Linked DNA regions of Homo sapiens. The protein of the gene in region 1 interacts with the protein of each later gene in a pairwise test. Each region holds a gene or a part of one and is shown in the gene's direction. Other genes may lie near its edges.

Evidence for each region.
Region 2: the proteins of CAMK2D (region 1) and FNDC3B interact in binary tests that used the Homo sapiens proteins (3 or more experiments, as listed by UniProt).
Region 3: the proteins of CAMK2D (region 1) and FXR2 interact in binary tests that used the Homo sapiens proteins (3 or more experiments, as listed by UniProt).
Region 4: the proteins of CAMK2D (region 1) and MOAP1 interact in binary tests that used the Homo sapiens proteins (3 or more experiments, as listed by UniProt).

Annotation. Positions count from the first base shown.
Region 1 is NC_000004.12:113,512,721-113,521,851, reverse strand, and holds part of CAMK2D (calcium/calmodulin-dependent protein kinase type II subunit delta), read left to right. Parts: intron 1-4,194; coding exon 4,195-4,289; intron 4,290-6,660; coding exon 6,661-6,783; intron 6,784-7,938; coding exon 7,939-8,022; intron 8,023-8,481; coding exon 8,482-8,524; intron 8,525-9,131. UniProt on the Homo sapiens protein: Calcium/calmodulin-dependent protein kinase involved in the regulation of Ca(2+) homeostatis and excitation-contraction coupling (ECC) in heart by targeting ion channels, transporters and accessory proteins involved in Ca(2+) influx into the myocyte, Ca(2+) release from the sarcoplasmic reticulum (SR), SR Ca(2+) uptake and Na(+) and K(+) channel transport.
Region 2 is NC_000003.12:172,398,382-172,403,104, forward strand, and holds the end of FNDC3B (fibronectin type III domain-containing protein 3B), read left to right. Parts: 3' UTR 1-3,288; downstream 3,289-4,723. UniProt on the Homo sapiens protein: May be a positive regulator of adipogenesis.
Region 3 is NC_000017.11:7,597,135-7,606,265, reverse strand, and holds part of FXR2 (RNA-binding protein FXR2), read left to right. Parts: intron 1-116; coding exon 117-169; intron 170-527; coding exon 528-621; intron 622-2,185; coding exon 2,186-2,257; intron 2,258-2,360; coding exon 2,361-2,509; intron 2,510-3,263; coding exon 3,264-3,357; intron 3,358-4,740; coding exon 4,741-4,857; intron 4,858-9,131. UniProt on the Homo sapiens protein: mRNA-binding protein that acts as a regulator of mRNAs translation and/or stability, and which is required for adult hippocampal neurogenesis. Specifically binds to AU-rich elements (AREs) in the 3'-UTR of target mRNAs.
Region 4 is NC_000014.9:93,180,901-93,190,015, reverse strand, and holds MOAP1 (modulator of apoptosis 1), read left to right. Parts: upstream 1-5,118; 5' UTR 5,119-5,206; intron 5,207-5,302; 5' UTR 5,303-5,457; intron 5,458-5,653; 5' UTR 5,654-5,773; coding exon 5,774-6,829; 3' UTR 6,830-7,817; downstream 7,818-9,115. Other genes in the region: LYSET (lysosomal enzyme trafficking factor), read right to left, coding at 3,345-3,756, 4,531-4,610.

The DNA of each region.
Region 1 (9,131 bases):
TCATTTCCCACTCCAATATTATCTTAACCAAATTGAAACATTGTATCAATACATCTATAAATATTTTAAAGTATATCTCTAAAAGAAAAGGACTCTAAATATGACAGTAATATTAGTTTTAAAATTTTAATAATTATTGCTTAGTAACATCAAAATATCTAGTCATTTTCCTATTTATCCTCTCCTGTCATAATCTTGTTTGGTCTCTTAGGTCTCTTAGTCATTCTTAATTTGTAATTTTTGCTCCATTCTCTCTTCTGTCTCCTTATTTCTTGATTTATTTTTCAAAGAAAACTGTAGCTCCAAGACAGCACATGTAAGTGCTCAATCTTGGTCTCTAGATACTATTTACCATTAAAAGGAACCAGAACTTTCTGTAATAGCAGCTGATTTCAAGTTTAGAACAGGAAAAAAGCAAGATGATCCAGGAGCATCTTGTCATACCACAAAGAAAAACTATTAAGGACCACAGAGTTTATATTAACAGATGCAGGAACCACTTTGAGGAGGCTGGCACTAGCCAAAGATGGGGCAATTGAGAATCAATAAGAAAAATAACATAATAGATTGAAATACATCAAGTAAGTTTAAATCCAGGAATTGATAATGATAATCAAAATTCAACAGAAGTCCTAACCTTTGGGGGATGTTGGGGAGCCAATGCGTTATTTTAAAAACTGGCTAGTAAAGAGGAAAATAAATAAATAATAGCCTATCTTTCCTATATGAACTGTATCTTAGGCCAACCAAGTGGATAAGGAGCAAGATTTTCTTAGTCTAAAGAAAGCATGATATAATTAGAGTATCATCATTTTGTTTGTTTGTTTGTGAGTCTCACTCTGTTGCCCAGGCTGGAATGCAGTGATGTGATCATGGTTCACTGTGGCCTCGAACTCCTGGGCTCAAGTGATCTTCCCACCTCAGCCTCCCAAGTGGCTGGGACTAGCTGTGCATTCCACCACACCTGGCTAAATTTTTCTATTTTTGGAAGAGACAGGGTCTTGCTATGTTGGCTAGGCTAATCTTGAACTCCTGGGCTCAAGTGATCCTCCTACATCAGCCTCCCAAAGTGCTGGGATTATAGGTGTGAGCCACCATGCCCAGCCATCATTATTTTGCAACCCCAGTAAAATTATGTAGGCAGTAATCATAAAAGGCTGCTAGTGTCATGAGAGATACCCAACATTTGGAGGTCACATCATCACCCCTCAAGTGGTCTCGCAAAAAAAAGACTTCTTCATTGACTTTTAATGATTTTAGTACTTTAGGTATATGGGCAAAGAAAAAGAGCTAGTGATTTTTTCCTTTCTTTTTTCTCTGACATAGAAAAAAGGTAAAATTTAGGTTTATTAAAAAGATAAATTGGGCTTACTCATGAGGCAAGAACTCAATTAGAACAACAAACACTTTTATTTTATTTTATTTTATTTTTATTTTTGAGGCAGAGTCACAAGACTCTGTCACCTAGGCTGGTAGAATTCAGTGGCACGACCTTGGCTCACTGCAACCTCCACCTCCTGAGTTGAAGCGATTCTCCTGCCTCAGCCTCCCGAGTAGCTGAGACTAAAGGCATGTGCCACCATGCCCGGTTAATTTTTTTGTATTTTTAGTAGAGACAGGGTTTCACCATGTTGGCCAGGCTGGTCGTGATCACCTGACCTCAGGTGATTTGCCCGTTTTGGCCTCCCAAAGTGCTTGGATTACAGGTGTGAGCCACCACGCCCGGCCTAGAACAACAAACACTTTTAAAATAAGCATTTGTTTAGAGGACCTAGCTAAAGGAAAAAGTAGCTGCAAGGAACATTTAAGATAGGACCAAATGGACATCTTTGCTAGTATGTCAAGGTCTCTCAGTTAGACAACACAAAGTTTTAAATTTTATATTATCATTCCTACTAAAGTTCATAGATAAAGAAAAAGTGGCTGCAGGGAATGTTTAGAGCATCATTATGTCTGTCCTGCTTGTGGTTGAAACAGTTACTTAATCTCTCAGCCTGTTTCTTCATCTATAATATAATGCAGATAATAACAATATCTACCTCATAGCATTATACAAGGATTAAATGAGATAATGCATTAAAGCACACATAACTCTGAATAAATGTTATCTACAATAAAATTTATTAGTATTACATTATCCTTATGCCATGAGTCTCATACTTGTTCTATACATTCAGAAAATAGAACTACAAAATAGCATAACTCAGAAAGGTTTTAGATGCTTGTTTAATAATCAAGTTGAAGTAAACTTACAAAACGGTGTTTATTTAAATAGGCACTGACAATTTCACATCAGGCTAGTCAATAGCACCTATAATATGTTTTTTTTTTAAGTCTTTGGGCCTAAAAGTGTTTTTTTTAATCTTCACATTTATGCTATTATTTTATTTAAAGTACATGTTTTTGTAAACACTCCTCCATCAAACAGCTAAATTGTGGGCATCTATTACATATTGCCTGCTTTTCTCATGGAATGAGCCCTCTGTGAGCTTCCTCTTCCCAGAGAAGCACCACATCAACTGTCAACTGCAGACATAATTCATAAGGACAAACAGCCTATGTTGAGAATGCTAAATGTCTCAGTTGAGCCACTATTTCATAATTCTATAACAGCCTAATTCCAGATGTGTATTAGGAAAATGTTCATATTCAATGGAAACTATCACTATTACAAAGCAAATTTTCTTCTTAACCTCCTGGAACCTTATATAGCTGAGGGCTAAAACTACTCAGGTACAGCTTTTTTTCTACTTGCCTCCTGAGAACACAAAGAGAAACACTCATCATCATCATTACTATCATCATTTTCATTAGATGTATGGAAAAATTATTTTTATGTCATGAAGGTGAGGTACCAATATACTGTGGTTTTCTTCATGGTCTTTTTTTTTTCCTTAAGAATGTTGTTTAAAATTTTTTATCCTTGTATTGATTCACATGACTTAAAAAATCTGCTTATGAACTGTATCTTCCTGAAGCAGGCTATAAAATTCTAAGATGATTAAACCATTGCTTAAAAACCATTTCAGCTGCTACAGTGTCTATTGTATAAAGATGTCCAGACTGCTGGACAGGAGCAGGGATAGATCTCCTAGGTACAGAGACCAAGAGACCACCTTGGATAAGGGAAAAAATAAGTCTCAGGGTACACCTGGCAAAGTGTCACCTGTCTTACTCTTCTTCTCAGGTTTCCTAGGCTTAAGGAAACATAGCAAGAAAAAAGCAAACAGGAGAGGTCAGAGGAATGACTGCCTTCCTCCAGGATAATGAGCTAGGAAAGAAACCAAAGGCCTTAAGCAAGGCAATAAAATACGTGAAAAGTGGCAGGAGAGATATTTGATGACAGAGAAGACCACTGTATCAAAACAATCTCAGACATTTAGACTGCAGATATGATTTCAGGGAAATTTACAAACTGTGAATACAGAATTTTTTTAATTTTAAAAGTGAAATTAGATTTTGGTTAATTTATAAATAATTATGTTTGTGAAAAATTTTAGCAAATTTTATTACAGCCATGTGTTTATTGTTATTATTACTTTGAATTTTCTGTGGAATTTCTCCCTTCTCTCCCTTTTTCCTCTCCCATAATATATATTCTTCTGTAGTCTTGTTGGTTTAGTTGTTTGACTGAGAAGGCTTGAAGTATTTGAAGACTAAGATTACTGAAAAGAAAAGGGTTTTGTCTCTATGGGGTACCCACATTTGCAGGGACTATGGTTATTTAGAACGTGGATTTATAACCAGGACACCATCACTCAACAAAATGTCCCAATGACCATCAAAACAAGTATGAGGAAATAAAAAACATGCTTAGTTTTTAAACTTCAACCTCACAGTGACTAAAATCATAGTCTCTATATAGATAAGAATGCAGTAAGACCCTCTATAGACAAGAGTTCAGGGGGGCCAAAGAATGTTGCCCTAAATGAATGTTGCCCTGCCATGCCTCTTTAGAATTCTTTGATGCATGCATTGACTGACACATTGTCAGAGTTCTGGAGCATAGGAGGAGAAGCATTCACCCTCCAGAGACTGCTCTAGACTAGATCATAACACATCTTTCTGAAGTTTTCCTACAATCCAGTTTTCTCTGTTTTAACAACTACGGCTTAATATCATTGTGGATCAGCCACATTTAATTTACTGTTGTCTATATGACTTAAATTGTGTTAACATTATATTCTCCTCCAGGTGTCATTCTCTATATTCTACTTGTGGGGTATCCACCCTTCTGGGATGAAGACCAACACAGACTCTATCAGCAGATCAAGGCTGGAGCTTATGATGTATGTAATAACTATTTATATCACTTTAGATGAAGGTTTGTCTTTTGCCTGTTGACCAAGAGCCAGATCTTTTCATTTTTCTTTTAACCATAATTTTTACCACTTTCTCATATTATTTCCCTCTCTCTTAAGGAAAGGGAGAAAGAAATGCAGCATTTGTATCCAGTTTACGTTTCCTTTTAACTCACTGTCTCCTAAGATTGAAAGAAAAGCCATGTGAAGTCTCTGAGGAAGAACTTTGTCAAAATATTTGGACCTTAGTGCATTTTAAAAACATAAAAATTAAAATATTTCTGCTATAGAAATGATTATTGCCTGTTTAGTTGAATTATATTCTCAAATATCTATCACATAATTTTATATTATATACCAACAATATTTTGCTGTGATCACATATCAAATAGAACATTATCCCACTATACCAGTTTCTGGGTTTTGTTTTTTGTTTTTGTACTGTTTGGGATACTATGCAAGCTTTCATTTGAAGAATGAGTTTCACAATTGAAAAATTTGAAAATCATAATTCTAATAATATATTTAATTTATAATTAGAATATTTGAAAGTAGATATATATATATACATTCATAAATTAAGTTCAGAATCTGAAGAGGAAGGCTTTATCTACTTTCTCTTTATGGCTTAACTTTGTGTTTATGATATAATTTGCTCTCCTTTGATACATATTCTTGTAAATATGATTTACCACTTTCTCAGGTTTCCCCTCATACAGCCCTATGGAAATCCATGTGCAGGGTCTGGGCATGCTTTCCATGTGTTATTAAGTAGAGTAACTACAGAGTAGCAATATTGGGTTCACCTTTTGTGCACAAGTTGAAAGCTCAATGTGAAAGTGAGAGGAGAAGATATAAAATGTCTTTATTATATTCTATAATGTCTCGTGAACTCTTCAATGCATTTCTGATAAAAATTTTCTATTTAGATGGATGTGTGTGTCAGCAAGAATTAAAAATGTATATTCTTTGAATTTCAAAGCATTGCATTATTCCTAGACTAGTAATTGGAACAAATTATTATTTACATGGCAATAGCTAGCACATTCACCATCTTTACAGACTAGAACCAGCCCCTCTCTGGGCAGACGTAGCCCTGAAAATGCACTGCTTGGTATACCTAGAGGAATGCTTTCATGAAAATTAGAGAACTGAGGAAAATGTTCACCTTTCTTCATGCTGAACCTACCGCTCATTTGCTATCAGAAGACCTGTACAACATTAAGAAACAGCCTCGTGTGTTTCTTTAACAGCTCCTAATAGTTAGCAAGCTTTTACAACTGCCAAAGATAAGCTTCAGGAATTAAAAAATGGCAATTGTTTAGCTGGCAAAAATTACAGATATTAGAGTCAATATCATTTTTCTCATGCTTTATTATGCCAGTGAGTCACAAGTTCCCCATTTTAAAACTACTAAAAATGGACTAATTTAATTCCATGACACAGTGGCAATGGCTTTATTTTTCAAGATTGTCCATACAAATTCATGAATTGGGAAAATAACCTGATATTCTATCATTTTGCAACTAATGTGGTGTAAATTTCCCTTCATCGTTGAAGGACAGTATTTCTACTAAATATGCTAATCATATAAAAGTAAGTTAAGTAATTATCACTACAAAAAATAATGTAAAGAAAGGAGAAGTAGCTTTCTTATATAGTCTTAATATAAAAAAGTATTAGTAATGGGAAGTTATAAGATTTGATTACTTTCATATACTTTGGTGAAATTTGTAATTGGGCAGATTAAACTTCTTGAAGGGTTAAAATGAAATCTTGCTGAAGCTCCTGTAGTCTCAGATTCTTCTCACTACAGCACTCCAAGTAGCCCTGATTAATAGGTCAGTTTTGGCACAGGAATTGAAGCTGTTTTATTACCTCTGCTATTACTGCTTATGAGTTGTGAAAGTATATAATACCTCATTTTGAACCTTGGCATAATATCATGATGACATTGGTACATGTAGCAACCTGTTTGCTTTTATTAAGTTTTGCAAATAATTATGAGAAAGATTGTATAAAATTTCATTTTCAGATCAAAGCAGAGATACTTTGAGAAGAATAGAAGATTCTTAAGTTCTTTTTTTCTGAATTTTAAAATGTATTTACCATATGTGATATGCAGCTCAGTACATATGTTGGTCCCTTATCAGATACTCTTTAATATATATAGTTGTCTACATAGAGGGGGAGAATAGATCTAAATGGTTTTATTTATTTTAGATACAACTTAACTTATATAAAAAGTAAATTTATGAAGAAATTCACTACTTGAGGGAATGATTCATGTAGTTGACTCTTCCCTGTTTGATCGAGTGTGTCTATTTTTTAAACTTTTTATAAATTTATATTTTTGAAGTTTCCATCACCAGAATGGGACACGGTGACTCCTGAAGCCAAAGACCTCATCAATAAAATGCTTACTATCAACCCTGCCAAACGCATCACAGCCTCAGAGGCACTGAAGCACCCATGGATCTGTGTAAGTAAAACTTCTCCAAAACTTCAAGAACTAAAATGAAAAATAAGCTCTCCTTTAATATATTGTTTATGGATTTAAAATAGCTTTGCAAAAAAAGATGAAACTCAGAATGAATGAATTTTTGACTCGAGGTGTTTAAGAAAATTAATTTTATGATGGTGAAAAAATGCAATTTTCAGTAGCAAAGTCTGAATTGCATAGATTCTTAAATAAATATTGCTTGCAGTAACAAAAGGAATGAGTATTCTCCATATCAATTATTAACAATACTCATGAACAAGGTTAAGAAAATAACACCAAAATTAAATGTGTCCCAGAAGAAAAGATTTAACAAAGTTCAATTATTTATCATTAGGCAACTTTAGAAACAAGTATGAAGTTTGGCAGCTGACAGTAGAGTTTCAGTGGCGTAAAATAATGGTCATAGTAGTCTGAATATATTTTAGAAATATTAAGAAGAATAGTGTGAAATTTGAGGGGGATCTGGAGACTTCAGTAAATTTCCAAATGTGTCAAATGCTAAGGTGATAAATGTGGCACTAAGTAAATGAAAGGCAGCTCAATCAAAATGTGATTGAAGACATTAAAATAAAGATAATTTGAGAAATTATTAATATTCATTTCTATACTTTCTGGTTTGGTTTTGTTTTGTTTTGAGACAGAGTCTTGCTCTTGTCACCCAGGCTGGAGTGCAATGGCACGATCTTGGCTCACTGCAACCTCCACCTCCCAGGTTCAAGCAATTCTCCTGTCTCAGCCTCCCGAGTAGCTGGGATTACAGGTGCCCACCACCACGCCCGGCTAATTTTTGTATTTTTAGTAGAGATGCGGTTTCGCCATGTTGGCCAGGCTGGTCTCAAACTCCTGACCTCGTGATCCACCCGCCTTGGCCTTCCAAAGTGCTGGAATTACAGGCGTGACCCACCGCGCCCGGCCCATTTCTATACTTTCTATACGTCAGTGTTGCATCTTGGTCACAAGTAGTCTTGGCAAAACTAAAATTTTATTTTTAGGTAACTTTGGCAATTGAATACTTAGAAGTTGATCCTGCAGGTGCAGCACCATTAATAAATATTTGATGAAGTCAGGGACATTATTATACTTAGTGTGTTTTAAATATTCTCAATTAAGTTACTTTTTCTCCTCTTCTTCTAGCAACGTTCTACTGTTGCTTCCATGATGCACAGACAGGAGACTGTAGACTGCTTGAAGAAATTTAATGCTAGAAGAAAACTAAAGGTAAGAAATTTTACATTTTTATGGGGAGGTAGATTTGACAGACTAAGAAGTGAAATACTGTGTGAGGAAAATAACTTCTAGCAAAGGCTTTCAATTATGTAGACCTCAATACTCTCATTATTCTTTTTGGGGCTCTTGGGAAATGGAATATACACCAGAATCAAAACTATGGTGAAAAGCTGGAATCATCCTGGCAACACATGCTGTGGATCCTTCCTTCAGTGGAAAACAGCTGTGCAATTTGATAATCAGAATCTGGCCCGCACACTAGGGCCGTCCCAGCATCATGAGAGACAAAGGCCTTTGACTCTCAGGAAACCAAAAAACAAAAACAAACAATAAAAAATCCCCTAACTGAAAGTAGGGCCAGGAAAAGATTTGTTATCAAAGACTCTATATTTGTTAGGTCCAGAATTTGCATAGGCAACACTGACTTTTGTGTTCTAATTTTTTTCACAGGGTGCCATCTTGACAACTATGCTGGCTACAAGGAATTTCTCAGGTACATGCATTGGGAACTCTGCTTCTTATCCCTTGGTCTTCTTTTTAAGTAGTCTCTGTTTTTTTGTCTCTGGAATTTTAAAAATCTAATAATTAGAAAAACTTCATTGTTCAGGGGTGGCAAATGTGTGGCACAGATTCCTTCTACACCTATGGCTGCCATTAGCAGTCTACCTGGGTGCTGTCTGCTGCCGAGCCTCCGTGACTGAACCCCTCACAAGACTGCTTCTGGCAGCAGTGGCCACCAGTCAGTGCTGGTGCAGGACTAGCCTCATCTGTCAAGTGCTGGGGTGCGCACGAGTTGTGGAAATAAATACTCCCTCATTTACGATCTCAGCGTTTCAAACCTAGAATTTATTACTGATATTTCATAAAGTAATAACTTTGAATAAGTTATTTTTGGTCTCATTTTCATAGGGAATCCTAGTATGCAAGATTTTTAAAAGAAGACCATTATTGGCCGGGCGTGGTGGCTCACGCCTGTAATCCCAGCACTTTGGGAGGCCGAGGCAGGTGGATCACAAGGTCAAGAGATCAAGATCATCCTGGCCAACATGGTGAAACCCCGTCTCTACTAAAAATACAAAAATTAGCTGAGTGTGGTGGCG
Region 2 (4,723 bases), on another chromosome or scaffold:
ATGATTTACACTAATTGTGAGCAGTCTTCTTATGTGTCAGCTCATTATTTTTGAAACATTTGCCTTTAGGCTGTTCTTTGAGGTATCAATGAAGTGATTGAATTTCAATACCTTAATTCAGTGCACATAATACTAATGTAACAGCAGATGAAAATTGATAAAACCCAAAAGAGAGTCATCTAAATTTGTAGTTCCTATTTCTGTGGGTTTGCCTGGCCATGGTTGGAGAGGGAATGGTGTTTGATGGTAAACACAGGGTGTTTGGGGATCAAGGAGCCTAGATTCTCTCCCTGGATCTGTCACTAACTTGCTGCGTGACCTGAACACGTCACTTTACCTCTCTGTGCCTCAGTTTTCCCATGCATGAAAAATAAAATAAAATAAAACGGGGATTCTAATGTTTGTAAGTGCTTTGAGATCTTTGACCAACAGGTGCTATTGGAGTGCAAAGTGTTACTCTTACGTGTTTATTTTGAGTCATGAGATAATCAATTTTAACCCAAAGTCATTGGATTATTTATATGAAGTCCATAATGTTCGAGTACCTCAGGGACATTTAAGAGTTGGAGGTGCAAATATATTCCAAAAGGGTGCAACAGACACAGTGTATCCCCCTGCTTCTGTTTTTGTATATTTTTGCTACTTGGTTTTTCTTGATCATAGCTATTTTGTGCTTGATCTTTATTGTCTAAGATGCAGTATCCTGTACTAGCTTATAATATTCCCATACCAAAGTCATGGGGAAACAAACATTATTTTGTTTTTGGTTTATTTATACTATATTCTGCATACAGTACTTTAAATGCCAATTACAGTGCAATCTTTATTTATTGTAAAATTTTTTAAGTGTACTTATGTACTAATTTTCCCTTGTAGCATGTTATATTTTTGTGTTTTATACTTTTGTAATTTTAGGTCAGTCTTGTTCCTTGGCAACATCTGTAGTATTATTAATCTTCTGACATTTTCTTATGTTTTTAAAAAGATAAGAGCATCTAGTGCATTAAATGCCAAAAAAAAAATACATTATCAGTGATTGAAACGTTTACATGTACCCAAAAACCATAATCATCTCTTGGAAGAAAATGCTGAGATCAATGAATTATTCTGTGTGCCTATATTGACGTAGTGAGTACTAGAGAGTTCTGTATTTTATTATTGACTATAATAATTAGTTTAATTAGCTTTGCAAACTGATGGCATCAAGGTAAATATATTTTTGCCAAAGTTCTGGCCTTCCAAAACTCACCCCCTTATTTAAATGTGTGCTATGACCCACTATGACCACAGCATCTGCATTTTCTAAAAAATTCCATGCAGGTGTTTTGGGGAGAGGTATTTTTTAAGCAATGAAAATTCAACTGAGTACAAAGCCCCCTCTTGGGGGGTTGGGGAAGTCTCTTTTTTGAAACACTTCAGAACTGCTGCTATAAAGAAATTCTCTAATTGGTTGAATTTTTTTTTTAAGTAAATAGTACTTTAGGCCAAAATTTATATGAATATTTGATCTTCTTGAGATTTTCATACTATCATTTAACCACCAGGAAGCTGAAGTGTGTGAAGTACAAAGCTGACAGCACTTTATTTTATTGCTCTCCATTATTTGGTATTCATTATATTCCTTCAGTCAGAAAATTATTACTCTCTATGGCACTGTTTTTTATCACAAATATGTATATGTGATATTGATATATAACTATATATATTGCCATCACACACGAACAATAAAATAAAGTGTTCTATTAACCTGATCTCTTTGCCCTTTTGCTATGTGAGGAGTGAATGAGTGGCCTTCTGATGCTCTGACTCTTCTCTGTATGTCAAACTCATCCCTGGCACAAGAAATTCCAGTCATGTGAAGCAAACTGCCCTTTGTCCTCAAAGAAATTGTTGAAAAAGAAAACTTTTTAAAGAGATTTTTTGCATATTCTCTGCCTTGTTCTTATCAACTTGAAATGTTGGCATTTTCTAACCTTGTTTTGTTGGCTACAATAATTCAGTATTCATGTCAAAATTGAGAAGTGCCCTAATTGAATGTGTTTGAATGTTATCCTTGCACAATTCTTTAAATTGAAAGATAAAATGTTTTACCTCACTGTTGGACATACATTCCAAGCTTTTCAACTCTAGGAGAAAAAGAAAATCATGTTTTCCTGTATTGTAAATTTTAGACTATTTCATATACATTGTATTAAAACTGCCATATCAATTTTAATGTATAGATTTTGCAAATATTATGCTATATGTAATACCTAACTGTATCTGTAGTGTATATGTAATATATTTATGCCCAATAAATGTTTTAATTCTTTCTGACTTAAATAGGGTTTTTCTGCCATGACTAGGATTGCTTTTGTTGTTGTTGTTGTTGTTTCTTTCTTTTTTTTTTTTTTTGAGACGGAGTCTTGCTCTGTCGCCAGGCTGGAGTGCAGTGGCGCGATCTCAGCTCACTGCAACCTCCAGCTCCCAGGTTCAAGTGATTCCCCTGCCTCAGCCTCCCAAGTAGCTGGGGATTACAGGCACTCGCCACCATGCCCGGATAATTTTTTTTTTTTTTTTGAGTTGGAGTCTTGCTCTGTCGCCCAGGCTGGAGTGCAGTGACCCAATCTCGGCTCACTGCAAGCTCCACCTCCCGGGTTCATGCCATTCTCCTGCCTCAGCCTCCCAAGTAGCTGGGACTACAGGTGCCCGCCACCACGCCCGGCTAATTTTTTTAATTTTAGTAGAGTCGGGGTTTCACCATGTTGGCCAAGATGGTCTCGATCTGACCTCGTGATCTGCCCGCCTCGGCCTCCCAAAGTGCTGGGATTACAGGTGTGAGCCCCCGCACCCAGCCTTATTCTTCCCTTTTAAATACTTAAAGCACATTCAGATTAGTTGAAAATTCACGTGTTTTTGGAGGCCAGGCAGGTGGCCTTCTGCAGAGACAGCAGCAGCTCAGCTCTTGCTGACCAAGGCCTTGGAGGACTGTGAGCCACAATCACATATGTCCATGTTTCAAAAGAAGCTAAATATCCAGATTTCCTCCATGGGCCAACTAAAAGGTGATTGTGGACTATACAGGCTGCCAGTTTAATCCTTTATCAGAGTCTCTGTGGATAATGTACCTTGTTGCCTAATACTTTATCTGTCTACCAAAACTCAGTCCAGATCTCCCTCTGTTCACCTGGCACACTGGGTGCTTCCTCTCCCCTGACGAACTCTATAGAGTGTTCATGTCCTTTCCTGCAGGTCTCATTCAACAACAACAACAACAACAGCAATAAAACACAGTGTTCCTGCTATGGCCATGGTTTTGTGATTTTAGATTGTCTTAGTAGGAATTCCCACTATCTCTTTTATTTTTCAGGAAAATGGGTAAAAAAAACTGTCACTTTATTGAACCTCACTTATATGAAGCATGGTAATTATTCTGGGTAAAGATGACAAATTGAGCACATCAAATTTTGAATGCTCCTGACACCACTAAAAGTAAAGGATTTTTTATTTTTTTAAGTCACAACTCAACCCTCAAGACTGGGAAGAAAGAGGAGTTATTGGCACCAGAATTTTGGAAATATGATCAACAAAACTTAATTCTAATTTGGCAGAGGAGAAAATGAGCATCAGTGTTTTTATTCTCAATGCAGGATACCCTAAAGGCTCAAAAATTGACAGCAACATATCCCTTTGAAGTGATAGTGAAGAGAGAGAGGAGGCTAAAATAGTATTGGTTGAAAGCTGTTTAAAATGCAGTTAGATCAATAAAATCCCTCCCCCTTTTTTTTTTCAGCTGGACAAAAATGTCCCTCCTCCCCACCCACCTCCATCACTCTTGCAGAAGCCTAGAGGTGTATCCTCAGGAGAAGGTTCAAATAGAAAGTCCCTGGACTGGGAGACACGATCCACAGTTGAGAATGAAGGCACCATATCAAAAGCAAATTAGTGAACATAGGCTTATGGAAGAACATTACAAAGAGCCTCATGGGCTGGGAACAACAAAAAAGAAATCTAAAAATCTAAAAATCTTCAATGAAATGGTTCAGCCAGAGCACTCTTGGGTAGTACTTTTCAACCTGTACATTAATATCACCTAGAGAGCTTTTCAAAATTCTCGTACCCTACACCAATAAAATGAGTATTGCAGAGGCATCAGTATTTTTTAACACTCCCCAGGCGCTTTCACTGTGTATATGAAATTGAGAACCATTGCTGAAAAGTGAAACTCTCAGTCAGCAATCCCCTATCAGCTTTTTAGTCTTTCATCTTAACCAAGGATAACCTGATATCTGATGAAAGTGTCTAACGTGGATGAAAAGCCCAAAACCAACAACTTGGAAGAATCAGAGACTACATGGAGAAGAAGCTTCAAAAACCTGTCATATCTCCAGAGAGATGAGAAAAGAAAAGGCATCTGTAGAATAAAGATAGACTACTATAGAAAAGGAACTGTTAACAAGAAAATGTTCTTGGAAATTAAACATTCGGTAGCATGGTTGGAAGCTGAAATTTAGCAAATAACCTGAAAATTTGAGGAAAAAAGAAAGGAAAAGATTAGGATCAGACCAGGACCATTCAATATCCAAGTAATAGGAACTCCAGAAAGAACAGAAAGTGGAAGAGAGGAAATCGTTAAACACATGAGTTTCTAGAATAATAGGGTATGGGAGCACACAACACAATGGATGAAAATAGGACTTGTACTAAGGCTCGCCATCTTGAAGTTTCAACACTAGAGAACCTC
Region 3 (9,131 bases), on another chromosome or scaffold:
TGTGTCCCTATCTAAAACTCAAGTTTAAGGTTTTGTGGTGTCTTATTCCCTTGATGGCTAAGGTGGAAGTAAAAGGTCATTTTATTTTTTTTGCTTTTTTCTAAAATCCATTCTAGGGCTTTGTGAAGGATGTCCATGAAGACTCTGTCACCATCTTCTTTGAAAACAAGTAAGACCTTGGGAATAGAGAATCCAGCATACTAGGTCCTAGAAGGAGAGTGGAGAAGAGGGGGCAGCTGAGTCCTATGAGGCATGTAATAGGTTGGGAGAGCTGAGGGTTTGGGTGGGAACTCATATGGATCCCAGGAGAGGAAAGGGCTGAGAATTTGGTGAGGGTGGGGGCATTTGACCCAGTATTTAGAGTCTAGAAAGAGATGGAAGACACTACTATGGAGCAGGGCCTGGGGTTTAGCCTCTAATTATCCAGATAGGTGGAACTCGCCCAGCTGAGGCAATAACCCTTTTGTAAAGAAATGGGCAACCATATCAGTCAGAGTAGCTTTTTCATATTATTGTTTCTATTATAGCTGGCAGAGTGAGAGACAAATTCCTTTTGGGGATGTCCGGCTACCACCTCCAGCTGACTATAATAAGGAGATCACAGAAGGGGATGAAGTGGAGGTAAGGGCTGTGGAGTACACCTTTCTAAATGTCACTTTTCCCCAGGATTCTAGGCTTTTCTCTGGTTGGTTCATGTTCCTTCCTCCCCAACTAAGCCATATCCAGCCATGTAGCCTATGGAAATGTAAAATGCAACAGTTCCCCTTTTATCACTGTTGTGATCAGCCAAACTCTCAGGAACATCCCCAGTTTCAGGCGATTTGCCTTCCATTTATGGTAACAACATCTAAAATCCAGTGCCCTCTGATTTTTTTGTTGTTGTTGTTGTTGTTGTTTTGAGATGGAGTCTTGCTCTGTTGCCCAGGCTGGAGTGCAGTGGCGCGATCTCAGCTAACTGCAACCTCCGCCTCTTGGGTTCAAGCAATTCTTCCACCTCAGCCTCCCAAGTAGCTGGGATTACAAGCACCTGCCATCATGCTCGGGTAATTTTTGCATTTTTGTAAAGACATGGTTTCACCATGTTGGCCAGGCTAGTCTTGAATTTCTGACTTCAGGTGATCCACCCGCCTCAGCTTCCCAAAGTGCTGGGATTACAGGCATGAGCCACCATGCCCTGCCGTCCTCTGATTTTAATTAGTTCCTTCCTCTGGTTTCTTGTATCCTTGGTTTAAGATACATCCCAGGCTGGATGCAGTGGCTCACACCTGAAATCCCAGCACTTTGAGAGGTCGAGTGGGGCAGATCACCTGAGGTCAGGAGTTCAAGACCAGCCTGGCCAACATGATGAAACCCCATCTCTACTAAAAATACAAAAAATTAGCTGGGCGTGGTGGCGGGCGCCTATAATCCCAGCTACTTGGGAGGCTGAGGCAGGAGAATCGCTTGAACCCAGGAAGTGGAGGTTGCAGTGAGCTGAGATTGTGCCATTGCACTCCAGCCTGAGCACCAAGAGCGAAACTCTGTCTCAAAAAAAAAAAAAAAAAGATGCATCCCAAATACCTTTTTTTTCTTTTTGAGATGAAGTCTCACTCTGTTGCCCAAGCTGGAGTGCAGTGGCGCGGTCTCAGCTCACTGCAACCTCCACCTCCTGGTTCAAGTGATTCTCCTGCCTCAGCCTCCTGTGTAGCTTGGAGTACAGGCATGTGGCACCACACCCGGCTAATTTTTGTATTTTTAGTAGAGGTGGGGTTTTACCATGTTGGCCAGGCTGGTCTTGAACTCCTGACTTCAGGTGATCAGCCCACCTCAGCCAAAGTCCTGGGATTATGGGCATAAGCCACCGCGCTTGGCCTCTTTTTTTTTCGTGGAAGTGGGGTCTCACTGTGTTGCCCAGATCGTTCTTGAACTCCTGAGCTCAAGAGATCCTCCCACCTTGGCCTTCCAAAGTGCTGGGATTATAAGCTTGAGCCACTGTGCCCAGCAGCCCCAAATATCTTAATGGTTGTTCTATTGTTTATGTTGCCCAAGCTGGTCTTGAACTCCTGGGCATAAGCAGTCCTTTTGCCTCAGCCTCCCAAAGCGCTGAGATTACAGGTGTGAGCCCCACCATGCCCGGCCTCCTCATCCCTTTCTTGATGCTTTTGGGTGGTCTTCAATATCTCTTTGATTCTCTACTTTTCTTTAGGTTTATTCTCGAGCCAATGAACAGGAACCTTGTGGCTGGTGGCTGGCCCGGGTGCGGATGATGAAGGGAGATGTGAGTGACTGGGAATGCCTTTGGAGAACTACTGAAACAAATATGTTATTCATAGAAAGTTGCTCAGGTCATCCACAACTTCTCCTTTTTTACCATGTGCCAGTTCTATGTCATTGAATATGCTGCCTGTGATGCCACCTACAATGAAATTGTTACCCTGGAGCGACTTCGGCCAGTTAATCCCAATCCCCTTGCAACCAAAGGCAGCTTCTTCAAGGTTACCATGGCTGTGCCCGAGGATCTGAGAGAAGCGTGAGTGTTAAGGATGGTGGGAATGAGGGCCCTCTTTACAGCCCTAATCTCTGGCTTTATTTCTCCCAGGCATCACTCCCACTTTGCAGTTTTCTCTGTTGTTCCCCTGGCCCTCTACTAGAGCCCTTCTTGCTAAGAAGACACTTAGTTTCTTTATTTTCCCATCCTTGTTCTTTAACTGTGGTCCCTCTTCTTTTCTTTTCCTTTCTTTCTTTTTTTTTTTTTTTTGGAGACAGAGTTTTGCTCTTGTTGCCCAGGCTGGAGTGCAGTGGCACAATCTCGGCTCACCGCAACCTCCACCTCCTAGGTTCAGGCGATTCTCCTGCCTCAGCCTCCCGAGTAGCTGGGATTACAGGCATGCACCACCACACCCGGCTAATTTTGTATTTTTAGTAGAGACAGGGTTTCTCCATGTTGGTCAGGCTGGTCTCAAACTCCTGACCTCAAGTGATCCGCCTGCCTCAGCCTCCCAAAGTGCTGGGATTACAGGCGTGAGCCACCGCACCCGGCCCAGTCCCTTTTCTTTTCTTATTTACTCAGCCCTGCTTCTCTGAATTTTTTTTTTTTTTTTTAATAGAGACAGGGTCTCACTATGTTGCCCATGCTAGTCTTGAACTCCTGACTTCAAGTGATCATCCTGCCCTAGCCTCCCAAAGTGCTAGGATTACAGGTGCAAACCACCATGTCCAGCCTCCCCCGAACTCTTCACTGTACTCTCTGCATTCTGCCCGCTGAGTACTTTTTTCCTCTGCAGCTGCTCCAATGAAAACGTCCATAAAGAGTTCAAGAAAGCCCTGGGAGCCAACTGCATCTTTCTCAACATCACAAACAGTGAGCTCTTCATTCTGGTGAGTTTATTCTGCCTGAATTTCACATAAGCCTTTTGAACATTTTTTCTTTTTCCCTTTTTAACCCTTTTGCAGAAAGAGAAGGGCTTAAATGTGCTTATATTTATTTGTCAAGAGGACTTTATTGCTCCTGACTCCTACAGGCCCAGGTAGCCCTACCTTTTTTTTTTCTTTTTTTTGAGACGAAGTCTCACTCTTGTCACCCAGGCTGGAGAACAATGGCACGATCTCGGCTCACTGCAACCTCCACCTCCCGGGTTCAAGCAATTCTCCTGCCTCAGCCTCCTGAGTAGCTGGGATTACAGGTGTGCGTCACCACGCCGGCTAATTTTTTTTTTTTTGAGATGGAATCTCACTCTGTCGCCCAGGCTGGAGTGCAGTGGCGCGATCTCGGCTCACTGCAACCTCCACCTCCCAGATTGAAGCGATTCTCCTGCCTCAGCCTCCCGAGTAGCTGGGATTACAGGCGCCTGCCATTGCGCCTGGCTAATTTTTTTTTGTGTTTTTAGTAGAGACAGGGTTTCACCATGTTGGCCAGGCTGGTCCTGAACTGCTGATCTCCTGATCCACCCGCCTCGGCCTCCCAAAGTGCTGGGATTACAGACGTGAGCCACCGCGCCCGACATGCCCGGCTAATTTTTGTATTTTTAGTAGAAACAGGGTTTCACCATATTGGTCAGGCTGGTCTTGAACTCCTGACGTCGTGATCCGCCCGCCTTGGCCTCCCAAAGTGCTGGGATCACAGGCGTGAGCCACCACGCCCGGCCTCTGACCCTTTTTTTTTAAACCTGATAATCATGTTGCCATCTGGGTTAGAGACCCTCTCTTGATATTTGGACTTTCAGAAATAGAGTATGTAGCTCTCACCTTATGCTTGCTCCTTGCTTTCTCTCTAAACCATTTTCCTTCAGTACCCTGATAGTCAGCCTTTGTGGGACTGACAATGAGTCTCCTCCTTCCTAGCTTCATTTCTTTTTTTTTTGAAAACAGAGTATTGTTCTGTCACCAGGCTAGAGTGCAGTGGCGCAGTCTCGGCTCACTGCAACCTCCGACTCCCGGGTTCAAGCGATTCTCCTGCCTCAGCCTCTGGAGTAGCTGGGATTATAGGCATGTGCCACCACGCCCAGCTAATTTTTGTATTTTTAGTAAAGACAGGGTTTCACCACGTTGGCCAGGATGGTCTCGATCTCATGACCTCGTGATCCGCCTGCCTTGGCCTCCCAAAGTCCTGGGATTGCAGGCATGAGCCACCGCGCCCGGTCTCCTAGCTTCATTTCTTAACCCTTTTCCCGGGACTTAGGCATCCTGATTTCTAGTCCCTGGCTCTCCCTTAGTGTTTATTCCAAGCCAGTTTTAATGACTTTCCCACTGGTTTCCTCCCAGTCAACCACAGAAGCCCCTGTGAAGCGAGCATCTCTGCTGGGTGATATGCATTTCCGAAGCCTGCGCACCAAACTGCTACTTATGTCCCGCAATGAAGAAGCTACCAAGCACCTAGAGGTAACTTTTAGCTCCTTTTCCTTCTGCTGAAGGGTATTGTCTTCCTCCCTTCCTACCCTGTCCTCCATCCATGATCTTGTGTTTACAGAACAAAGACTAAGGCTTTTTCTGGGCAATTAAACCTGGGTCAGCTATTTTATCTCAGACTCCTCCAGATGGCAGAGCTCTATCATGGTATAGTGCAATTATTTTCAAATTTCTTTTAGCCAATTTTTTTTTTTTTTTTTTGGGAGACAGAGTCTCGCTGTGTCGCCTAGGCTGGAGTGCAATGACACGATCTCGGCTCACTGCAACCCCTGCCTCCTGTGTTTAAGCGATTCTCATGCCTCAGCCTTCTGAGTAGCTGGGATTACAGGCGTGCGCCACCACACCCGGCTAAGTTTTGTATTATTAGTAAGATGGGGTTTTGCCATGTTGCCCAAGCTGGCCTCGAACTCCTGGCCTCATGTGATCCACCCGCCTCAGCCTCCCAAAGTGCTGGGATTACAGGCGTGAGCCACCACACCTGGCTGAATGGTTTTTTTTGAGACGGAGTCTCACTTTGTCACCCAGGCTGTAGTGTAATGGTATAGTCTCAGCTGACTGCAACATCCACCTTCTGGGTTCAAGCGATTCTCCCGCCTCAGCCTCCTGAGTAGCTGGGACTACAGGCTTGTGCCACCACACCCAGCTCATTTTTGTATTTTTAGTATTGATGGGGTTTCACCATGTTGACCAGGCTGGTCTCAAACTCCTGACCTCATGATCCACCTGCCTCGGCCTCCCAAAGTGCTGGGATTACAGACATGAGCCGCTGCGCCCGGCCTTGGTCTTGAACTTCTAGGCTCAAGAGATCCATCTGCCTGTACTTTGCAAAGTGCTAGGATTACAGGTGTGAGCCACCACATGCAGCCTAGACTAGAATATTTATTTTTTAGGGTGGGCGCGGTGGCTCACGCCTTTAATCGCAGCACTTTAGCACTTTGGGAGGCCGAGGCAGGCAGATCAATCCGAGGTTGGGAGTCGAGACTGGTGAAACCCCATCTTTACTAAGAAGACAAAAATCAGCTGGGCGTGGTGGCACATGCCTGTAATTTCAGCTACTCGAGAGACTGAGGCAGGAGAATCGCTTGAACCTGGGAAGTGGAGGTTGCAGTGAGCCAAGATTGCGCCATTGCACTTCAGCCTGGGTGACAAGAGTGAAACTCTGTCTCAAAGAAAAAAAGGATATGACTGGGCGCGGTGGCCCACGTCTGTAATCCCAGCACTTTGGGAGGCTGAGGCGGGCAGATCACCTGAGGTCGGGAGTTCAAGACCAGCCTGGCCAACATGGGTGAAACCCCGTCTCTACTAAAACTACAAAAATTAGCCAGGCGTGGTGGCAGGCGCCTGTTGTCCCAGCTACTCGGGAGGCTGAGGCAGGAGAATCGCTTGAACCTGGGAGGCGGAGGTTGCAGTGAGCCGAGATCACACCATTGTACTCCAGCCTGGGCAACAAGAGTGAAACTCCATCTCAAAGAAAAAAAGGATATTTCTTGTTTTTTTGTTTGTTTTTTGAGATAGCGTCTCTGTCGCCCAGGCTAGAGCGCAGTGGCGCTATCTTGGCTTACTGCAACCTCCACCTCCCAGATTGAAGCGATTCTCCTGCCTCAGCCTCCCAAGTAGCTGGGATTACAGGTGTGTGCCATCACACCTGGCTAATTTTTGTCTTTTTTAGTAGAGATGGGGTTTCACCATGTTGGCCAGGCTGATCTCAAACTATGGACCTCAGGTGATCCGCCCACCTCGACCTCCCAAAATGTTGGGATTACAGGTGTCAGCCACCACGCCTGGCCTGACTAGAGTATTTCTGTGAGATCTTTTTGAATTCTGACATCGTATAATTGTCAGATTCCCTTTCGTTGGTATTATACTATTCTAAGTGAATAGGGTGTGTGTGTTTGAATACCATTTCCATTTATCAAGGGAATTGATCTTTTTGGGAGGCTTTTTTCTGTGCCTGTGCAATTTCTGGGTCATGATAATCTTTGACTTCTTCAGGGATCCTGCTCAGGGCACTGGCAGGTAAAAATTCACCATTACCTTCAGATGATACAAACTTTATTTTTTGTTTTTGTTTTTTGTTTTGAGATGGAGTCTCAGTCTGTTATCCAGGCTGGAGTGTATGTAGTGGTGCGATCTCAGCTCACTGCAGTCTCTACCCCCCGAGCTCAAGTGATCCTCTCACCTCAGCCTTTGGGTGGGTGGGATTACAGGTGCATGCCACCATACCTGGCTATTTTTTTTTTTTTTTTGGAGACAGTTTCCCTCTGTCACCCAGGCTGGAGTGCAATGGCACAATCTCCGCTCCCTGCAACCTCTCGCTCCTGGGTTCAAGCGATTCTTGTGCCTCGGCCTCCCAGGTAGCTGGGATAATAGGCACGCGCCCCCACGTCTGGATAATTTTTGCTTTTTTAGTGTTTCACCATGTTGCCCAGGCTGGTTTTGAACTCCCGACCGCAGGTGATCCACCTGCCTTGGCCTCCCAAAGTACTGGGATTACAGGCATGAGCCACTATACCTGGCCCTAATTTCAGTATTTTTAGTAGAGACGGAGTTTCACCATGTTGGCTAGGCTGGTCGCGAACCCCTGGCCTCAAGGGATCCACTTGCCTTGGCCTCCCAAAGTGCTGGGATTATAGACATGACCCATTGCACCCGGCCTAATTTTTGTTGTTGTTTTTTAATTTTTTGAGACGGAGTCTCATTCTGTCGTCCAGGCTGGAGTGCAGTAGTGCGATCTCAGCTCACTGCAGCTTGTGTAGTTAGCGCAGAGTGAGCAAAGGGAGACCGATACAAAATTCGGTCAGAGAGTAGATCATGTAAGACATGTACGGTAGGCTGAGGAGGGGGGATTTTATTGTGCGTATACTGAGAAGCCATTGAGTTAACAGTGCCTTCTGGTTTTTTGTTTTGTTTTGTTTTGTTTTGTTTTTGAGACGGAGTCTCGCTCTGTCACCCAGGCTGGAGTGCATTGGCGTGATCTCGGCTCACTGCAAGCTCCACCTCCCAAGTTCACGCCATTCTCCTGCCTCAGCCTCACGAGAAGCTGGGACTACAGGCGCCTGCCACCACGCCCGGCTGATTTTTTTGTATTTTTTTTTAGTAGAGATGGGGTTTCACCGTGTTAGCCAGGATGGTCTTGATCTCCTGACCTCGTGATCCACCCACCTCGGCCTCCCAAAGTGCTGGGATTACAGGCGAGAGCCACTGTGCCCGGCCGAAAGTGCCTTCTGTTTTAAACTCCTGTTTCAATGACAGATGGAAAGGGGGGCAAGAATGGAAGCAGGAACAGAGCACAGTAGTCCAGGTGAGAAACTTGAACTGGAGTGCTAAAGGAAGAGAGAGAGAGTAGTTTTATGTAGGATAAATTTTACGAGTAAAACCAGTAGGACTGACAGGCTCTGTGATACTGAGAGATACATATTTGGTCTCCTGACCAGGCTCCTGGCATTCAACTTCTAAAATCCTTGGAATCTCCAGTGATGTGTGTTTTTGTGTGCTGATGAGTTGATTCATGGCTAGCCCCTCTAGGTGGCTTCATGATTAGAGGGTTGGAACTTTCAGCCTCACCCCCACCAACTTCCTGGGAGGGGAATGGGGCCAAAGGTTAAGGCAATCACTGAGGATCAGTGATTTAATCAGTCATGCCTAGTAGTGAAGCCTCTAAAAACCGGAAAGGGGCCGGGTGCAGCGGCTCACGCCTGCAATCCCAGCACTTTGGGAAGCCGAGGCAGGTGGATTGCCTGAGGTTAGGAGTTTGAGACCAGTCTGGCCAGCATGGTGAAACCCCTTCTCTACTAAAAATACAAAAAAAGGGAGGCAGAAGTTGCAGTGAGCAGAGATCATGCCACTGCACTCTAGCCTGGGTGACAGACCCCATCTCAAAAAAAAGAAAAAAAAAAAAGAAAACCCAGCTGTTCTGCAAGCTTATCTAGAAGACGCTTATAGGTCATTGTAGATCTCTTCCCCTCCCCTCCTAATGTAGTGATTTTGAACACTCAACTTAGTTTATTTTTCCAACTTTCTCTTCTTGCCTGGTATAAATCCTTGGTATAATTCAGTCCTATCCAACTTGGAAGTGGGAAGTAGTGTATTTCAATCTAGGAATGTCTCCTTTCAGGTATTGTTTCTATTTGGTGCTTACAACATGGGATTCACTCCTCTAAAACCTTTCCTGTCTTCCTGCCCCTGAACCCAGGGGTTCCTCTAAGGACTGATTGAGAAATGAAGTGAAAGCCTGGTGTTCTAGAGGC
Region 4 (9,115 bases), on another chromosome or scaffold:
TATAAAAAGAGATGAATCAACTTCATTAAGAAAACTTTGCAATACCAGTGGCAACCTCACAAACCTTGCATTACATAACCTTTTTTTTTTTTTTTTTTTTTTTTTGCAATGGAATCTTGCTCTTGTGGCCCATGCGATCTTGGCTCACTGCCACTCTCCCTCCTGGGTTCAAGCGATTCTCCTCCCTCAGCCTCCTGAGTAGCTGGGATTACAGGCATGCACCACCAGCCGTGGCTAATTTTTCTATTTTTAGTAGAGACAGGGTTTCACCACGTTGGCCAGGCTGGTCTTGAACTCCTGGCTTCAAGTGATCTGCCCACCTCAGACTCCCAAAGTGCTGGGAGTAGCATGAGCCACCCCTTTTTAATAGAAATGGGGTCTCGCCATGTTGCCCAGGCTGGTCATGAACTCCTGGGCTCAGGCTATCCTCCCATCTCTGCCTCCCAAAGTGCTAGGATTACAGATGCCACCACTCCCAGCCTACATAAAGCATTTATAAAACAAAACAAAACTGAAATAATTTTCTTAAATCACTGCCTCAAGACTAATAAAACTGGCAACTCTCAATGATTTCCCTCAAATTACTCTCCTTTTTGAGAAGCAGTATAGAATGATAAAAAGCTGGAGATCTGAAGCCAACATCCTAGGTTCAAATCGGCTCTTTCACATACTGGCTATGTGACTATGGACAAGTTATTCCTACGTGTTTCAGGTTTCTTCTGTAAAATGACACTAGTAGCAGTATAATACCTGCCTCCCAGGACTGTTGTGAAGAATAAATGTAAATCACTCATAAACAATGTCTGTAACATGCATACTGAATACTTAAAAGATGCAAGTGATTTGGTCATCTGACCCTCACAAAAACAAGTATTTCAAACTGCTGCTTACTTTGAGGATTCCACGTGTTATATCAAAAGATATATCATTTCAGTAACTAGACCTTTGGAGGCAGTGAGATAAATGAGACTAATTGATCTGAAGGATCTGATCTGCTACTTTTACATCACAAAGGTACCTGCTTTATCTTTTAAGTAACAGCTTGCTATGGAATACTCAGCCTTCCTTTCGGGTTCAGTCAGATGTAGTGGAAAGATGAGGTTGCTAGGAAACTTTCAGATTTCTAGTAGACAAATAGAGAAAAACTTGTCAATACTATTGCCATTTCCATTCTTTGGCATGACTGGGCAAAGAGTACCCAGTGCTAAAACATTTGTCATTTGTGAGAAGCGCTATGCCTCTGTGGTTAGTAACGATGGCGTTAGAATGCCTGGTTATAACCCTGGCTCTGCTACTCGCTGTGACCTTTGGCAAGTTACTTGACTTCTCTGCCTCAGTTTCCTTATCTGTGAAATCTGGATAATAATACCCATCTTATAGGGTTGTTGGGAGGATTACATTAGTTAATTTCCATAAAGCTCTTAGAATAGGGCCCAACAGAATAAGCATCAAAAAGTGTTGATTATTAAAAGCATAAAATGTTTTCCAGTATTAATGACATAACTGTATAAAAATATATCTTGATCTCATGCAGAAAAGAAATGCTACTGTGTCCATGTTTTAGTTATTTGTATTAGTACCAGATGTGAGGTAGTACAAATGCAAAGGAGAAGGTACAGGAACACATCTTCATGTAATTAACCTACTGCCTGATGACCTGACCTTGGGCCAGAAAAGAAAATCAGAAAGATTATGACTTGATAGCATCTTTTAGAGGGGTCTCATGCATCTGATAAGGACTGGACTAAATTACCTGCTATAGGCTGGCCATGGTGGCTCATGCCTGTTATCCTAGTACTTTGGGAGGCTGAGGTGTATCACTTGAGGTCAGGAGTTCGGGACCAGCCTGGACAACATGGTGAAACCCCGTCTCTACTAAAAATACAAAAATTAGCCAGGCATGGTGGTGGGTGCCTGTAATCCCAGCTACTCGGGAGTCTGAGGCAGGAGAATAGCATGAACCTGGGAGGTGGAGGTTGCAGTGAGCTGAGATCGCACTTCTGCACACCAGTCTGGGCTACAGAGCAAGACTCCATCTCAAAATAAATAACATAAATAAATACAGCTAGGCATGGTGGCTCATGCCTGTAATCCCAGGCCTTTGGGAGGCTGACGCAAGTGGATTACCTTAGTTAGGTGAGGAGTTTGAGACCAGCCTGGCCAACATGCTGCAACCCTGTCTCTACTAAAATAACAAAAATCAGCCAGGCATGGTGGTGGTCACCTGTAATCCCAGCTACTCAGGAGGCTGAGGCAAGAGAATCGCTTAAACCCGAGAGGTGGAGGTTGCAGTGAGCCGAAGGTTCCAGTGAGCCAAGACTGCACCACTGCACTCCATCCTGGGTGACAAAGCAAGGCTCCGTCTCAAAAATAATAATAATAATTTAAATAAATAATAAATAACCTGCTAGATTTTCATTGAACACATTGTTTCCATCTTCTATTTGTAAGTTATTTCTAGCCTTTCAACATTTAACACTTAGTTTCTTCCCAGATAGTTTTCTAAATCAGTAGCATTGGAGCGTACGTTCTCAGGGCCTTCTGAGACTGTGTCACAAGTCATGGAAAAAAAAAATTTTTTTAATTAAAAATAGCTGGGCATGGTAGCTCACACCTGTAATCCTAGCACTTAGGGAGCCAGAGAGAGGAGGAAAGCTTGAGCCCAGGAGTTCGAGACCTGCCTGGGCAACATAGCGAGACCCCATTCTCCACAAAAAAGAAAAATATAAAAAATAAAACCATTAAAAGCATTAATAATAATTTAGCCATTACCAAGAGGAAGAACAAATTCTGCTTATCAAGACAGCCATTTCCTCAATAATTTTTTAGCAATGCCTCATAAGCTGACAGCAAGTCTAGACAGCTGGCTTAGCTGCAATAGAATGAATCGGTGTTTTAAGTGTGAAGAATTTTAAAGCAAGCCAAGTAATTGTATAAAATTTAAATTTTATGATCATGTCTGGACCTTTTTACACTTAACACAATGGAAATGTTCATATTCATTTTTTTCCCCAAAGGAAAAATTTCTGAATCATCACTATGTTGCACAGTAGAATAGAAATATGAATTCAGGTACTTAGTCAAGTTTCTAAAGAATGCAAATAACAGACATGATTTAACTTCCAAAATCTGAAGTCATCAACATGATTTTGTAGTACTCTATCTCAGGTTTTACCTAAAAATTCGTTATTATTCAGATAAAGATAGCTCCCTAATCACATGTTTTTAAAAAGCCTCTGCCCCACGACAACTTCCTGAGATCTGTGAAGAAACTGCAGTCTTGTGATCAGACTCCATATAGGACTGGCAGTTTTGTAATCGTAGGGAAAAAACGGTGACTGATTTTACGTGTCAATCAGTTGTAGTCTGCTGATCTGATTAGAAGCCTTGACAAATGCCTGGTGGCGATTGCAAATAACTGCCAAGCATATAGGGATGATACAGTAGCCCACTGTTTTGGGATCAGCTCTTGTACAAGAGTATAGGAACAAAAACATCTGTAAGTAAGGTACCAGAAAAATAACTGTCCACACCCAAAAAGGCAAGGAGAGTAATTGAGCTTTCAAGGAGTGTGTCCATGTGGTTCCTTCAAGGGGCTCCTCAGGGTGCTGTTGAATGTGTTCCAAGGCCAGCCTGTTGTAAGTCTCACTGATTTCAAAAACATAGTAAAATGCTGCTGCACTGGCTAACAGATACAATCCCACTCCAATCCATCCCATCCGCTGACGGAAGTTCATCATTCTCCATGCTCTGTGCCTTCAAATTAAAAAAGAAAATACAATTAGGGTCTAGTAATGCTGTCACGGCAACTACTCCAAATGTACTTGCTTTATCTCCAAGAATTCTAGGCCGGGCGCGGTGGCTCGCGCCTGTAATCCCAGCACTTTGGGAGGCTGAGGCGGGTGGATCACGAGGTCAGGTGATAGAGACCATCCTGGCTAACATGGTGAAATCCCGTCTCTACTAAAAATACAAAAAAAATAGCCGGGCGTGGTGGCGGGCACCTGTAGTCCCAGCTACTCGGGAGGCTGAGGCAGGAGAATGGCGTGAACCCAGGAGGCAGAGCTTGCAGAGAGCCGAGATCACGCCACTGCACTCCAGCCTGGGCGACAGAGCGAGACTCTGTCTAATTAAAAAAAAAAAAAAAGAATTCTAAAATATCCCACTAACACACTTAAGATTTAAAATAATTAAATTAAACACCTATTAAGAAATGTAAAACTTACAGGTTGTTTTGTGTAATACTTACAATCAAGTAAAACAACACACACAAAAAAACAAAAAACCATTGATTTCAGTATATACTGAGTTCTGCTTTTTAACGGGAATCCCTCAGAATAAATCACTGCATCCTACTTAAACAGGTCCATAATACCCGCCCTCCAGAAACTGGAATTAAACTAGTTTCTCACAGCACATTTCACTTTGACAGGTGAAACACTTTCTGGCATAACAGTACTGCTTCAGACGTGAACGCGGGGTGCTACAAGTCAAGCCCCCAAGTTAAGACAGTAACTCCTAAGCACTTACAATGGTCCCGAAAATCTTCCTGTTCCCACGGCAAGCGTTAAAGAGTCACTCAGCTCTGAATAATCGGGTGGCTTTGGCATTTCAGAGAAAGCCAACATAAAATAAATCCCCTGGGTCACCCGGCTAGGAGAAAGGTGAGCGCCGCCAGCCTGGAGCACCAGCTACTAGTGATTAAGAACGGCGTGACTGCGGCGGGTCACGCGCGGCCCGGCCCCCGTCGCCGCCGCCGGAGACCCGCTCTGAGAACCTGACCCGGCAGGGAGGCGTCCCCGCCACTTGGGCCTCCGGGCGGCCGGCCCCGCCCCCTGCCGCGCTGCAGCGCCGGCACGCCGCGACCAAGGCTGCGCAGGCGGCGCCAGGCCCGGGCCTCGCCGCCTTGCAGCGCCGCGAGCCCAGCGCCCGTCAGCGGTCGCCGGCGGAGCCTGCTTGCAAAGCTGAGGTCCCGGATCTCACCTTCCTGTCCCGTGGTGGCCAGCCCGCCCGCCGTCCCGGATGCCGCCGCAGTCGGAGCTTCCGGCTCGGGCCGGAAGCGCGCGCGCCCCGCCCCCGAGGCCCGCCCCTCATGACGTCAGATCGCCCCCGCCCGCCGCGCAGCTTCCCCGAGCGAGACCAAAACAGGTGGAATCCGGGCTGGAGCCGGAGCTCCGGCGGCGCGGGTGGCGGCACGTCCCTCCAGGTGGGTGGCTCTCTGGGTCTGGCGACTCAGCGCTCCTCAGCCTTGCCCCCTGGTGCCCGCTCGCGACTGTCATCGCCCCATCACTTCTCGTTGCAGACAGTACCACAGGCACCTGGAGTACCGGCATCGGTCGCTGTGGCCCCCGAGTGTCCGTCAGAGCCTAGGGGAGCCTGCCCTCCCGCGCCTCGTCGGGGCCCGGCCAGGCACCTTGGCCGCCGGCGCACGGACGCGGGCACGAGCACTAGATCACGGTGAGTGGAAGCGGGCCCGACGCGGCCCTGCAGGCCCGACATCCGCCAGGCACCAGGGCTGGGAGGGGTGAGGGGCGCGCGCCGCAGTGCGGCTGCCCTGGCGTCGCCGCTGGGGGCAGGGCGCGCGGGGCTTGGGGCCTGCACGCTTGCCCTGGACGTTGGCACCTTTAGCTAACCTGTCTGCTCTGTCTTGCAGGCTGCTGGACCTCGGCACGTTGACAAGATTTCTCTGGGGTACCGCGGAGGATTACTTTGAATTTCGGTGGTCGCCTGTGGTCTGGCATATTTAGAACTTAAGTCTATTATTTCGGGCACCATGACTTTGAGGCTTTTAGAAGACTGGTGCAGGGGGATGGACATGAACCCTCGGAAAGCGCTATTGATTGCCGGCATCTCCCAGAGCTGCAGTGTGGCAGAAATCGAGGAGGCTCTGCAGGCTGGTTTAGCTCCCTTGGGGGAGTACAGACTGCTTGGAAGGATGTTCAGGAGGGATGAGAACAGGAAAGTAGCCTTAGTAGGGCTTACTGCGGAGACTAGTCACGCCCTGGTCCCTAAGGAGATACCGGGAAAAGGGGGTATCTGGAGAGTGATCTTTAAGCCCCCTGACCCAGATAATACATTTTTAAGCAGATTAAATGAATTTTTAGCGGGAGAGGGCATGACAGTGGGTGAGTTGAGCAGAGCTCTTGGACATGAAAATGGCTCCTTAGACCCAGAGCAGGGCATGATCCCGGAAATGTGGGCCCCTATGTTGGCACAGGCATTAGAGGCTCTTCAGCCTGCCCTGCAATGCTTGAAGTATAAAAAGCTGAGAGTGTTCTCGGGCAGGGAGTCTCCAGAACCAGGAGAAGAAGAATTTGGACGCTGGATGTTTCATACTACTCAGATGATAAAGGCGTGGCAGGTGCCAGATGTAGAGAAGAGAAGGCGATTGCTAGAGAGCCTTCGAGGCCCAGCACTTGATGTTATTCGTGTCCTCAAGATAAACAATCCTTTAATTACTGTCGATGAATGTCTGCAGGCTCTTGAGGAGGTATTTGGGGTTACAGATAATCCTAGGGAGTTGCAGGTCAAATATCTAACCACTTACCAGAAGGATGAGGAAAAGTTGTCGGCTTATGTACTAAGGCTGGAGCCTTTGTTACAGAAGCTGGTACAGAGAGGAGCAATTGAGAGAGATGCTGTGAATCAGGCCCGCCTAGACCAAGTCATTGCTGGGGCAGTCCACAAAACAATTCGCAGAGAGCTTAATCTGCCAGAGGATGGCCCAGCCCCTGGTTTCTTGCAGTTATTGGTACTAATAAAGGATTATGAGGCAGCTGAGGAGGAGGAGGCCCTTCTCCAGGCAATATTGGAAGGTAATTTCACCTGAGTCTCAGGGAACCACGAAGGGATATGGCAATGAGTAGAGCATGAAGGTAGAACAGTCTATATACTCTTGTGACACATACAATCCCTACCTTGTGCTGCCAAGTAACTCATTTTTGTGCAATTCTCAGTATAAGCCCTTTGTCGTTTCTGTGCCTATTTAAAGTCTCCTAAAGGTGTAATTGACTAGGAAGGATGTAGTTCTACACTGCCATTTACCTATTTAAATTCATCCTTGTGAATATCTTTGTTGTTGTTGTTGAGACAGAGTCTCGCTCTGTCACCCAGGCTGGAGTGCAGTGGCGTGATCTTGGCTCACTGCATCCTCCGCCTTCCAGGTTTAAGCTATTCTCCTGCCTCAGTTGCCCGAGTAGCTGGGACTACAGGCATGTGCCACCACGCCCAGCTAAGTTTTGCATTATCAGTAGAGACGGGGTTTCACCATGTTGGCCAGGCTAGTTTCGAACTCCTGACCTCAAGTGATCCACCTGCTTCGGCCTCTGAAAGTGCTGGGATTACAGGCGTGAGACACTGCGCCCAGCCTCATCCCTGTGAATTTCTTATTGTACACAAGTTCTTTCACTATCTGTGTGCAGTGCTCTGAGGGGACAGACAAGGCTTGGGTGTATATGCCAACCAGATCTCATTGAAGTATCAGCTTGTTTGGTACTAGGTGCAAGTGTAGCATGTCACATGTGACCATGTTGGATCATTGACAATTTTTAGGTATGTACTGACCTACATTTATGATGAAGATCCTGAGCGGAGGTTAAGATATTAAGTTATTTTCCATATGAATCAGAATTATATTGATTCTGTGCAATCAAAACAAAAGGCAGAATAGAATGCTGAGATTGGTTAAGTTTGCAATGACCATCTTGAACCACAGATTTCTGCTATGTGTCATCAAAACATCTAGTTCTGAGTAACATTTTCACGATTGTTATAAAATTATAGGTGTGAACTTCTAAAATAAAGGAATGCTAATAAAATGACTTTGTCTGTTTTGTTTATATCACGGTTCCAAGAGAGATTTCATTTGAATAAAGAGTTCCCAAAGCATGAATCTGCAAACCACTGAACCTACACAGACTTAGTTCCTTGGACTCTTTCCTCTTGGTGCTCAGGGGTAGGAAATTGTTTTCTAAGTGAAGGGACCTTCTACCGAAGCAGTAAAACAATGGGATGAAACAAGACAGTGCACAAATTAGTGCGAGTAGTGCAGATGTATCAGTGTGTCAAATTTGGAAGGAGAAGGAAAGAAATGAACATTGCATGCTGCTGCTTGGAAGATTGGACTAAAAGTTTCTCCATGTACTTTCCCATTTAATCCTCTTGAAAAAAGGTTGAGCAGTATAATCTTAGCACTTTGAGAGGCTGAGGCAGGAAGATCGCTTGAACCCAGGAGTTCGAGACCAGCCTGGGCAACATAGTAAGTACAAAACATTTTTAAAAACTAGCCAGGCATGGTGGTGTGCGCCTGCAGACCCTGCTACTCAGGAGGCTGAAGCTGGAGGACTGCCTGAGGCCAGGAAGTCAAGGCTGCAGCAAGCCATGATCATACCACTGCACTCCAACCGGGTGACAGAGCAAGACCCTGTCTAAAAAAAAATAATAATTAATTTAAAAAATTCCTGCGGTATAGGAAAACTCAGTTTCACACTTGTGGAAATGGGCACAAAAGGTTAGAAATTTGGTCAAGGGCTGGGCGCAGTGGCTCATGCCTGTAATCCCTGCACTTTGGGAGGCCGAGGCGGGCGGATCACGAGGTCAGGAGATAGAGACCATCCTGGCTAACGGTGAAACCCCGTCTCTACTGAAAACACAAAAAATTAGCTGGGCGTGGTGGCGGGTGCCTGTAGTCCCAGCTACTCAGGAGGCTGAGGCAAAAGAATCACTTGAACCCAGGAGGCGGAGGTTACAGTGAGCCAAGATAGTGCCACTGCACTCCAGCCTGGGCAAAGCGAGACTCCGTCTCAAAAAAAAAAAAAAAAAAGAAATTTGGTCAAGGTGAAACATCCTTGGGCCAGAATTCTATCCTCTGTAGTAAGTGTAGTGAGCGATTAGGCCAGAATTCTTGTCTTTCTGCAAGGCCCATGTTCTTTCTACTGCCAAGAAAGAGAAACAATCATCAGGGTATCTATACCGAATAGCCTCACAAGGGAGGCAGGGCAGGCATTGGCTCCATTTCATAAGTGTCCATCTTATGTGCATTGGAGGGGAGTACAGTTGACCCTTGAACAACTTGGGGCTTAGGGGAGCCAGCCCACTGCACAATCTGCACATAACT